2 separate regions of the Homo sapiens genome follow, and region 2 is linked to region 1. The links come from fine-mapping of genetic effects on gene expression. A gene starts in region 1. The other region holds a variant in brackets. All regions are shown on one strand. Distances are from middle to middle.

Region 1 (5,358 bases):
TTGAATGGATGAACTTCCCTTCCTTTGGGTCCCTTCCCAGAAGTCCCCACCCCATTTGAGGCAGGGACTCTGTTTGACACCTCTGTGCCATCCTTGGCTTTTGCTTGTGGCCAAGCAATTTTTACAACAAGACGGTAAGCAGCACATTATCCCCATTTTCCACATGGGGAAACTGAGGCCCGGAGGAGCCGAGGAGGTTGCTGAAGGTCACACAGCCGGTGAGACGCAGCTGTGCACTTGGGGCTAGGTCTGTGTGCCCCCGGGGCTGTGCTCACCCTGCCTGTAGTTGCCTCTCCCCTCAAGGGGCTTCCAGTCTAGTCAGGGAGGCAGAGCAGGTACGTCAGGCCAGGCGGTCATGCCGGGAGGCCGGAGACCAGCCCGTGGGAGAGGAGTTTACACACACCCAGGACGGTCTGTGGGAGGAGGGGGGCCAGAGTGTGAACGCAAGGAGGCTGAGACGCGGGCACAGACAGGTGAGGGGCGTGGGGAGGGCACTCTTCACAGAGTGAGCGTGGAGGGAATGAGTCACACCTGAGGCAGGCGAGGCACAGCTGCGCCCACAGGTGTGATCCCCTGAAAACACAGCAGCCTGGCAGCCAGAGGCCAAGTGGAGACCCAACGAGAGGCGGCTCTATGGCCTTGAGGTCCCCGGAGAGAGGGTTGCCAGGTACGGCTTCTCCTCCCCGAGCTGGCACCGGGGTCCCCTCCTTGGCTGCCCTCTCCTCATCCTTATAGCCTGGGCTTCAGGTGCTTGAAAGAGGACAAGGGAGGGGGCAGGAAGCGGGGTGAAGACCTGCAGAGAGGATGAGGTGAGGGCCCACGGGAACGGGAAGGTACCAGCCCAGGGGTGGGGGTGCCCAGTGAACCCCTAGCCAGGAGGCTCTCTCCATCTCCTAGGGCCCCTGCGGGTCCCCCTTTGCGGGCATTCCAGGCAGAGAAGTTCTGCGCTGCCGAGAAGCCAGCGTTCAGGAAGGGAGTTGGCGGGCAGGAGGGTGGCCTTGGTTTGGGATTTGTGGGTGTCAAGGCCGCATCTGCGCCAGCCTCCCAGCCTGGAGTGGGTGGAGGAGCCAGGCGGACCGCAGACACACCCAGGCAGCCCACCCTGCCCAGGACCTGGGGATGCGGGGCGGGAGAGCGCGGCCGGCGTGGGAGAGCTTTATGGGGCTGCCCCCTCGATCGTCTGCGAAGTGGGGCGCGGGGCAGTCCCTGGACCGGCTCTGCTGTGCTCCGGGCAGTCGGGGGCTTGCGGGCGCTCCGGGGAGGATGCGGGCACCACCGGCTGGACGGTCGCAGCCTGCAGGGGGCCCTGGGGACAGCCTGCCTCATCCCCCCGGCGGGCTCGGGCCAGGTGGCAGCGCCTGGGCTCGCCGCGCGGAGGCGGCGGCTTCTCGGGCTAGGGGCGGCGGCAGGGGCGGCCCCGGGATCACATGGGCGGAGGCAGGTCCGGGAGCCCCGGGCGGGCTCTCCCCAGAGTCGGGTAGACGGCAGCGGGAGCGGTGGCGTCTCCCCGCCTTCCCTCCCTCCCGGGCCTGGGCGCCCAGCCGGACAGGTGAGCGGCAGCCAGGTGAGCGCGCCCACCTGCGCCTCTCCGCGCGGCCCGCCCTCCCCGGCGCCGGGCTCCTCTCCGCGCCCCTGTCGGCGCGGAACCCTGGCCTCGTCCGCGGCCCAGCTCCCTGGAGCCTCGCATCAGCGGGGGCGCCCCCGCGAGCTGCGCTCTCCCCGGCCGGAGCGCTCCTCCTCCAGCCCCCAGCCCGCAGGGTACTTTGCCCTCGGAGCGAAGGAGGCTCCAGAACTGGTAGAGCCGGGCCATCGGGCTGGGCACCTCCCCGCGGCGCCCGCAGCGCGGAGTCCACTGACCGGCTCAAAGGTCTGGGAATCTCGGGGCGGCCGCGAGCCGGCCTCGGGGACTGGGGTGGGGGCGGTGCTGGGAACAGAGGCTAGGCCTGGGCCCAAGGGGAAGGCAGCCGGGGATGGAGCGGACAGACCGCTGGTGCTCTTGATAGATTCTCGCAGCACTTGCGTCCCCAGGGCAGCCCCAGGATGGGTGCTGGGCAGGGTGGTGCCCAGCCTGGCACCGCGGCTTCCTGCCTGGATTGGCTCCTGGCTCCAGAGCTAGAGGCTCAGGAAATCCCACAGGGGTCTGTCTGCAAGGGCACTTCCTTGCCCAGCGGAGGGGCTGTGGATGGGAGGCCTGTCACCCCGGCTGTCTGTCGGGCAGCATCAGGAATCTGGGGGTGGGTGTGTCCAGCTTGACAGATGAACCCTGGCCTCCTTGCCCTGGCAGCCGGCCCCTGGGGGAGGTGGGGAGCCCGGTCTTGCCCGTGTGATCCACTTTGCCAAGAACGAGGTGGGCAGCTAGGAGGCCCATGTGAAGACTCGGCCTCACCCCACCAGTCCTTCACCTGGCCAGTGACTTACACAGTCTGTACTGGTGCCAGCCTGTTCCTTGACCCGTCACTCCTGCTTCCTGAGCCCTGCTCTCCCTAGGCCACTCACCAGCCCTCCCCCAGAGTGGAGAGGAAGTACCGTGTGCTGTGGGTTTTGGGGACAGGAAGCAAGCGCTAGTGGGACTGAGCCCTGATGGTGGAGGAGGGGAGACTGAGGGGGTGCTGGCATCCCCTCCACTTGCCAGCCCCTGCCCCCCATGCTCCAGCAAGCCCCCTGCCTGGCAGCCTGGGCAGCCCCCTCCTGGGAGTCGCTCCCTGGGCTGAAGACTAAGGAAGGGAGAACCCAGAAGCATGGCTTCCCAGGGTGGGGGGAAGTGAAACCGGGCTGAGGGAGGGAGTTAGCCACTTCCTCTACCCACCCCAAAGCCCCTGAGTAGCTGCTCCGGGAGCTGTGGTGCCCTCTCCTTCTCCCTTTGGCTCCTCTCCTGCTGCCTTACAGTGCCCCCAGAGCCGGCTAGGGGCATGGACTTCACCTCCTGGTCCTCTCTTCCTCAGGTATGGCGTTGACGGTGGATGTGGCCGGGCCAGCGCCCTGGGGCTTCCGTATCACAGGGGGCAGGGATTTCCACACGCCCATCATGGTGACTAAGGTAAGGATGGTGGCTCAAAGAGATGAGAAGGTCCTGCCAGAAGCGAGGTCGGCCCTGTTCACCCCACTCTGCACAGATGGCTTGCTTTTTCTGTTCTGGAGCTAGGGATCTGCTGCTGCCTGGCGTGCTGGCTGTAAGGGAGCCGTGGCCCTTTGCCACGGGGATGTGGTGGCCACTTCAGGAACAGACCTTGGGAGTGAAAGGGAGCTGGGACCAGGACAGGGCCGGCTCTTGCCTCCCCAGTTGCTATCCCCACACTTGCAGGCAGCCATTTGGGGTGATTACTAGAACAAGAGCCCCGGAGTTCTTGGCAGTCTCCTCTTGACCTGGGCCCAGGCTGGGAACATTCACAGGAGGGCTGTGCAGGCAGCCACCTGCAAGGTGCGATTTGCACGGGCAAGGCTCTCTATCCAAAAGTATTTCCAAGCACAGTTCCTGAAATTCTGCCACTGCACATTCTTTGGGAGGCCCATTAGAATGCCAGTGTGGGGTGGGGGCTGCCACCTGCGCTCCTGGAGGGGATGGCTGATCAGCTGGGTGTCATGAGCAGGCAGAGGGACATGCAGGAGGGTGCAGGCCGGCCTGGGTCAAGCCAGCCTCTGTGTTTCTTGGGTAGCAGAGTGGGAAGTCCCTTCTCCAGCTGGGCCACGGTCTGAGCATGCCAGCTCCTCATCCCTACAGGTGGCCGAGCGGGGCAAAGCCAAGGACGCTGACCTCCGGCCTGGAGACATAATCGTGGCCATCAACGGGGAAAGCGCGGAGGGCATGCTGCATGCCGAGGCCCAGAGCAAGATCCGCCAGAGCCCCTCGCCCCTGCGGCTGCAGCTGGACCGGTAGGGCCTCCCGCTCTGCAGAGCCTGTGGCATTCCCCCTCCTCCACCACCCCACGTATTGAGCAGCCCTTGCTCCTGCCCATGGGCTAGAGCTCAGCCCTAAAGCGGCCTTCTTGGGCCCTCTCCACACCTTGGTGAGAAGGTCCTGGGCTCTGCTTCCTGCAGCAGGGTGGGCTGAGGGGTGTTCCCATGCCTGGTTGGGTAAAGGTGGGCGCCAGGCTGGGCGTGCAGTCACAGGCTGGGCAGGGCGAGCTGGCACCAGCCACCTTGAAGCCCGGGTTTGACTGGTTCCCAAGAGTGTGCAGGGCACAGGGCGTGGGCATGAAGTGGGTTGAAGAGGGGAACCTTCTGGGAAAGGTATGCCCGAGGCTGCATCCCCAGGACTCCTGCTTCCAACAGGGCATGGCCTTTGTTTAGTTCCCAGCTGGAAGTGAGGACTTGGGGGGCTCATTCCTCATAGAGGCTGTCTGTTCCTCCCCATCACTGAAGGCAGATGCCCGATCCTGGGTTACTCCTAGGGTTTTGAGCCTATAAGCCAAGGTGGGGCCAGGGTGGGGCCTGGAGGCCAAGCTATAGGGGGAACAGGTGGCTCCCTGGGGTGGGGCATTGCAGTGAGTCACAGATCGGGAATGCCAGGAGATCCCCGAGCCAGGAGAGCCCTCTGCACGGGCCTAGAACCTGAGTCAGACACCTCTTGCATCCTGGCCACCCCCACATTGTCCTGCTCTCTTCAGCCCTACCAAGCCCCTCCTTCTCCAACTGCCCTGCCCTGTGGTGTGGCAGAAGCCGGCTCCCTTCATGTCATTCAGGTCCCTGGGTGTTTGCAGGAGCGGGACCCCAAGAAGGAGGGTAGAGAGCACCTCATGGCATCTGGGAATGGGGCAGAAAGCTACAGGAGGCTGAGGGTCTGGCAGCGGAAGGGCAGGAGCCTCGGACTGTCTCTTCCTCTGGGGTTCTCTGGAGGGACCAGGGCTCGGGGGAGGTAGGCCTGGGCTGTAAGTCAGGCCTCTGGTTCTGCACCAGGCAAGCCCAGACTCCAGTCTCTTAATTTTTTTTTTTTTTTTTTTTTTGAGACAGAGTCTCGCTCTGTTGCCAGGCTGGAGTGCAGTAGCGTGATCTCGGCTCACTGCCACCTCTGCCTCCCGGGTTCAAGAGAGTCTCCTGACTCAGCCTCCTGAGTACCTGGGACTACAGGCGCGTGCCACCACGCCCAGCTAATTTTTGTATTTTTAGTAGAGATGGGGTTTCACCACGTTGGCCAGGATGGTCTCGATCTCCTGACCTCGTGATCCACTTGCCTCAGCCTCCCAAAGTGCTGGGATTACAGGTATTACACCGCGCCCGGCCCAGTCTCCTTACTTTTGCTGACGTGATGCCCACCCCCCCCCCCGCCCCCATCTCCCGCCTCCTACCCTCCCAGGTGACCTCTCTGGTATTCAGAAGCCCTGGGGCAGGAAGCAGGGCTCCAGGCTGGAGCCAGAGACTGAG
Region 2 (5,358 bases), 420 kb before region 1:
GGACACTCACAGGGAGATGACCTCCGAGGGCAGGTTCCTGGGCACCGCCTTTGAGTCCACGCAGAAGGCGGTGTCCCTGGTGCAAGAGCAGCTGGGCGGGCAGGGGGGCGTCTTGGGGGGCCTCTTAGCGCTGACTTGCAGCATGAGGCAGAAGCCGAGCGCGGAGAGCGCCAGCAGCCCCGGCCCCGGGCCCCCCCTGGCCCGCAGCCCCGCCATGCTGCCCGCGATCTCTCCCTGGGGCCGGCGGCCGCGGCCCCCGCCCCACCGCTCCCGCGGCTGGGCCACCCCGCGCGGGCTGGCACCTCCCTGCCACCGGCAGCTGCTACCGCAGCCAGGGGCCCGCCTGCGGACTCCTCCTGCCCTCGGGCGCCGGCTGCGGTCCCCTCCCCTGCTCGCTCCCGCGATCCGGCTCGGGAGAGAAGAGCGGAGCGCGGAGCTGGAGCCGCAGCCGGGGCTGACCGCGCCGGGTGGCTGCGGACTGCGGCGCGGGCGGCGGGGGCGCGCGCGGGGCGGCGCGGGGCCTGGGAGTCACGGAAGGGGAGGCGTGGCCGCTGTGTGCTCTACCGGGCGGTCTCTGGGGCCATCCGCGTGTGGGGCTGCGCGTGAGTGCATGCGTGTGAGCTTGTGCTTGTGCCTCTGCTGGGCACGACTGTGCGCGCCGGTGCTCACCTGTCTCTGCACGGGCACATGCACTCACTGCCTTGTGGAGGCGCTTCGGCGTTAGGGATCCCTGTGCTTCTGTCTACCTGGGTTTCTTTGCATGGGGGGACACATCCCCTAGGCAGCATCATGGGCATGTCGTGAGTGACAGACGCATATCTAAGTTAGCATGCAAGATTAGAAGCACAAGGGCGTCCTGGAGGAGTCTGAAGTGCGCTTCTAACCGGATTCACATGTTTTTCCACGCGCCGCTGAACAGAATGTACCTTTGTGTCAGCATGAGCTGAAAAGGGAAACGCAGCCTCTGGAGCTGGAGTGGGACTGTGTGGAATTCTGGAACATTTCTCACGCTCAACCACAGCCTGTTAAAGCTGGGAAGCGCTTTGGATATTTTTCAGTCCAGCCCTTTGTCTAACAAATGAGGAAACTGAGGCCCCCTAAGCTTGCTATCGCAAGTGCTCTGTACTTTCCCTACTTAATCCTCTCAATCGTTTGAGGCAGGTGATAGTAATTCCCTTTTACAGACAAGAAAAGTGAGGCCTGTCGCACCAGAAGAAAAAGGTATCAGCAGGGATTTCCGCCCACTCTGCCCAGCTTCAAGGTTCACGGTCGTCCTTCCATGCACGGCTCTTCCAAGTGTAGCCCTGGGAGCCCGGGGGTCCTTGAGAACCTTTCAGGAAGTCTCTGAGGTAAAAACAATTTTCCTAATATTGTTAAGACATGATTTGCCCTTTTCACTTCTATGAAGCTCCAAATTTAAAAGATTTCCAAAACTGTAAAGAAATGACACTTTCTCTCTAATTTTATTTTGCTTTGTAAAATAATTTTGCTTTGTAAAATCGTTTTTCCATTAAAAATGTGATTTATGTCATAACCTATATTGGGTTTATTACTGATATTTTAAATTCACATGTAAATAAAAATGTAATTTCTCAGTAAATATCAACAGACATATCCCACATAAACAAAAGCTCTTGGGGGTCCTCAATACTTTTTGAGAGTGTTAAGGGGTCCTGAAAACAAAAAGCTTGAAGACTGCTGCTCTCTACCACGTTAGCTCCCCTGTGGCGGAGGATGACTGTCCTAAGAGCTCATAGGCACGGGGCAAGGGGAGCCTGGCTGTCAGCTGCCTGGGCTTCTAGTCTTGTGCTTTTTGCACACCAGTCCAGGGAACGAAGACCACTGGCTTTAAGATGCTTCCCCAGCTGTCCCCAGACTCTGCCAGCAGGGGATTCTCTGGTCTGAGCTTAAGTTGTGTTCTCCCAGCCAGGGATGCCCCTGCCCTTTGATGTCTCCTTGCTGCCACACATTTAGCCGCCCTCCCCATGCCAGCTTGGGGGGAGGGAAGCAGTGAGGGTAGGGAGGTGGCTGGGGCAGCTGGGCAACTGTCCCCACCCGTCCCTGGCACGGCTCTGCCCAGTACACAAAGAGCAAAGTGAATCTTGTCCCCACCCCTGCAGCTGAGGGGCTGGAGGAGGAAACGGGGAGGCCCACACAGAAGGGGTGGCCACCGTGGGGCTGTCCATCACTCAGGGCTCTCAGAGGGAGTCAACCCAGAAACAGACAAAGAGGGTGAGTCTGGGCTGTGTTCTTAGCTAGTGAGAGGTCCCCTAGAGGATGAAGTAGATGATGCTAATGAGGATGACTGGATGTCACACCCATGATGCTATTAGGTCCTCATAATAGCATAGTGAGGTGGACAGCTAGTACCTGACCCATCTCACAGATGAACATACTAATGCCTAACAAAGCAGAACGACTCACGCTGGGTCCCAGAGCTGGCCAGTGGAAGCACTGAGACCTCCACATACTGAAGGCATGGACTATTGACCGCTGTTGGTATTGGTCTCATCATTGACTATCATTAAGTGTTGGCTGTTTGCATGCTTCCTGCCCAGTGGCAGGTTCAAAGAAGCCCGCAGGAAGCGTGCTCCTTTCTTTCCCAGGGCCCGCAATTGGGCTGGAAGATAGAGCAACAAAAAGCGCCCATGTAACTCATGGGAACATTCATGTGTGCTGAATGGCAGGTGAAGGTGCCACAGAGAGGCTGAGGATTTCAGAGGGCACCATGAACTGGAGTGAGGTCGCAGAGCAGGTGCCATTGGCTCTTGGCCTGTTTGGGTGGGTGGCATTCAGAGAGGTGGAAGGTCAGATGCACTGTTCACGCCTGTAATCTCAGCACTTTGGAAGGCCAAGGTAGGAGGATCACACGAGGCCAGGAGATCAACGCTGCAGTGAGCTATGAAGCTGTGATTGCACCACTGCACTGCAGCTTGGGTAACAGAGTGAGACCCTGTCTCTAAATAATTAAATAAATAAAATAAAAATAAAACCGGAGAAGTGGAGAGGGATTGGAGGTGGGCTTTCACAGAGGGAGAAACGGCTTAAGTACAGGCCAAAAAGTGAGAAGGCTGCAGACAGGGCTGGTAGGGGGAGGGGGAAA[T/G]TTGGCACACCCAGCTAAAGGTCCTTCTGTGTCTCCTTCTCCAAGGAACCCAAGACCTTCACTTGGTTGGTGTGAGCACTCCAGGAGGCAGGCACCCTCCCTCAGCCCTCAAGCAAGCAAAAATGGGTTTAAAAAAAGAAGGAGAAGAAGCAGCAGCAGCAGCCGCCACAGAGCTTGTGACAGCTACAGCCTAAGGGCAACAGGCAGGGGAGACCAAGGACCAGAAAGAGCAGAGGCTTTTTCAAAGAAAGAGATCCCTCTCCCAGCACCCAGCGATGGCGGCAAACCCCACCCACAGTGCCTGCTAAGAACAAGTCCCACGTGAGAACAACATGGCCCCCCGAGATGCCCACAGGGACCCCGAGATGCCTGCAGTGCTTGGCTCTCCCGCTGGCCAGCTGCCCACCTGGCTCAGGCCCAGTACTCGTGAGTCAGCCGATCAATCCCAATGTTGCCAGGATGATGGGGGCGGGAGTAAGGGCCCTGGGGGAGGGCAGGGGTGGGCACTGCAGGCGAGCTGTCTCCCACATCTGGCACCTGCACACAGCTGAGGCCGAGCTGAGAGGATGCTTCTGTGGGCTCCCCCTCCTCCCGGCACCCCTCCCCTCCTTTCACTGTCCTAGGACACTCTCTGGCTGCTGGAGTCTTAGGCAAATATTTAAAGGGGCAGCAAGGGGGTGAGGAGGGTGGTGGGAGCAAACACTTCCCTCCCTTTCTTCCTCCCTGCGCTTCTCAGGGGCTCTCAGTTCAGATGCCATGCTGTTATGCAACCTTGGGGCTGAAGGCCCTCCAGATGGAGAGGGGGACAGGGGAACCTGCCAGCTCATGACCGAAGGGCAGGGCCCAGGTGGGAGGGGGCTGGGGCAGGGGACAGGAACTGGGGTGGCATGTTAAAGGACAGGAGGCTGGTTGGGCATGGTGGCTCACACCTGTAATCCTAGCACTTTAGGAGGCCGAGATCACTTGAGCCCAGGAGTTCGAGACCAGCCTGGGCAACATGGTGAAAACTCATCTCTATAAAACAAGCAAAAATTAGCTGGGCACAATGGCATGCACTGGTAGTCCCAGCTACTTGGGATGCTGAGGTGTGAGGATCACCGGAGTCCAGGAGGTCAACGCTGCAGTGAGCAGTGATCTCGCTACTGCATGCCAGCCTGGGTGATAAAGTGAGACCCTGTCTCACAACAAAACAAAACAAAACAAAACAAAAGGATAGGAGGTTAAGGGAGCGAGCCCAGGCCTGGACTCTGCCACAGTCACCTGAGTTTAGAGGTGAAGGGACTTTAGAGACCACCTGGCCCAAGGAGTGAAAGGGAACCTGAGAGAAAGGGTGAGCCAGCCCAAAGTCATTGGCAGATTTGACCTCGTAAATACATAGAGATGGCTTTGGGAAGGCACTAGGAAAGACAGAGAAAAGAGAAGGAGACAGTCCTCAAAGCTGATCGTATTTGGGTGAGTATTATTCTCAGGGCAAATTTAGGATCAGAGGATGCAGAAAGGGGAGTCTAGAGGGGTAGAGTGTAGACCACAGGGTGAGTGAGCTGATTCGAGGATGGGGAGACTGGGAGCCCACCAGTGACCAGAGCCAGCCCTGTTCAGGGCTGTCCGGGCAGAAGAAAGCAGTGTCAGACCTGGAATCTGCCATCAGCACAGCCTGCAATTGACAGACAAGCCCAGAGCAAAGAAGGAAGCACTGCACATGAGTAAGAGCTTGCCACCAGTGGGGACAGAGTTTCCAGAATTAGGAAAATAATCACTGGGGGCAAGTTTGAGGTTGGTACCAGATATGTGGGAGGAGGCAAGGTAAGGGAAAGAGTACTTGAAGTTGGAACTGGTCCTTGCAGGGAAATGCACATTTATGAAACCCCGAAAACTGATGTCAAAGCACCTCCTGCCTTGGGCAGAGTCCTCTCAGAGTCTACAGGTGCTGCCTCCAGAACCCTCTTCCTGGAGCGCATCCCTATGTATCTAGAAATTCTGCTGGGAAATATGATGGTCAGACCCTTGGCCACCTGAAAGGTTCAGGGTGGTAGAAGAAAAAGGAAAGCCACAGGGCAGCAGGGGCAGGTGCCAGCAAGGAAGGCAGGCACGCCAGGAAGACACCCATGGTGAGAAGTGCAGATGGCCCGAGGGCAAGTTTGCTCAACTCACCCAGGTTTGCTCTTGCTGGGGCCAAGAGGACTCATGTGCCAGGGCCAAGGGCCCTTGGGGGCTCTCACAGGGGGCTTATCTGGGCTTCGGTTCTGGAGGGCCAG

Which allele goes with the higher level. Positions count from the first base shown, and alleles are read on the strand shown. Sizes are in standard deviations (SD) of each study's normalised expression.
In carriers of allele T in region 2, the expression in liver of the gene that starts at base 2,815 in region 1 tends to be lower than with G alone (small effect, 0.21 SD a copy in GTEx).

The links. PIP is the estimated chance that this variant, and not a neighbour inherited with it, causes the effect.
Region 2: its variant is fine-mapped to the expression of PDLIM2 in liver (GTEx, PIP 0.97).

The regions. Positions count from the first base shown.
Region 1 is chr8:22,577,661-22,583,018 of GRCh38, forward strand. PDLIM2 (PDZ and LIM domain 2) reads left to right here and starts at 2,815. Exons shown (of 9, transcript NM_001368120.1): 1 at 2,815-3,037; 2 at 3,719-3,870. The coding sequence starts at 2,945. RefSeq lists enhancers at 582-1,275, 4,049-4,741 and silencers at 1,132-1,531, 1,602-1,671, 1,772-1,861, 1,872-2,031, 2,762-2,851 and 1 more.
Region 2 is chr8:22,156,327-22,161,684 of GRCh38, forward strand. LGI3 (leucine rich repeat LGI family member 3) reads right to left here and starts at 480. Exons shown (of 8, transcript NM_139278.4): 1 at 11-480. The coding sequence starts at 216. It also overlaps a transcript of SFTPC not described here. RefSeq lists an enhancer at 513-657 and a cis regulatory region at 585. The variant T/G (reference allele first, on the strand shown) is at 3,104.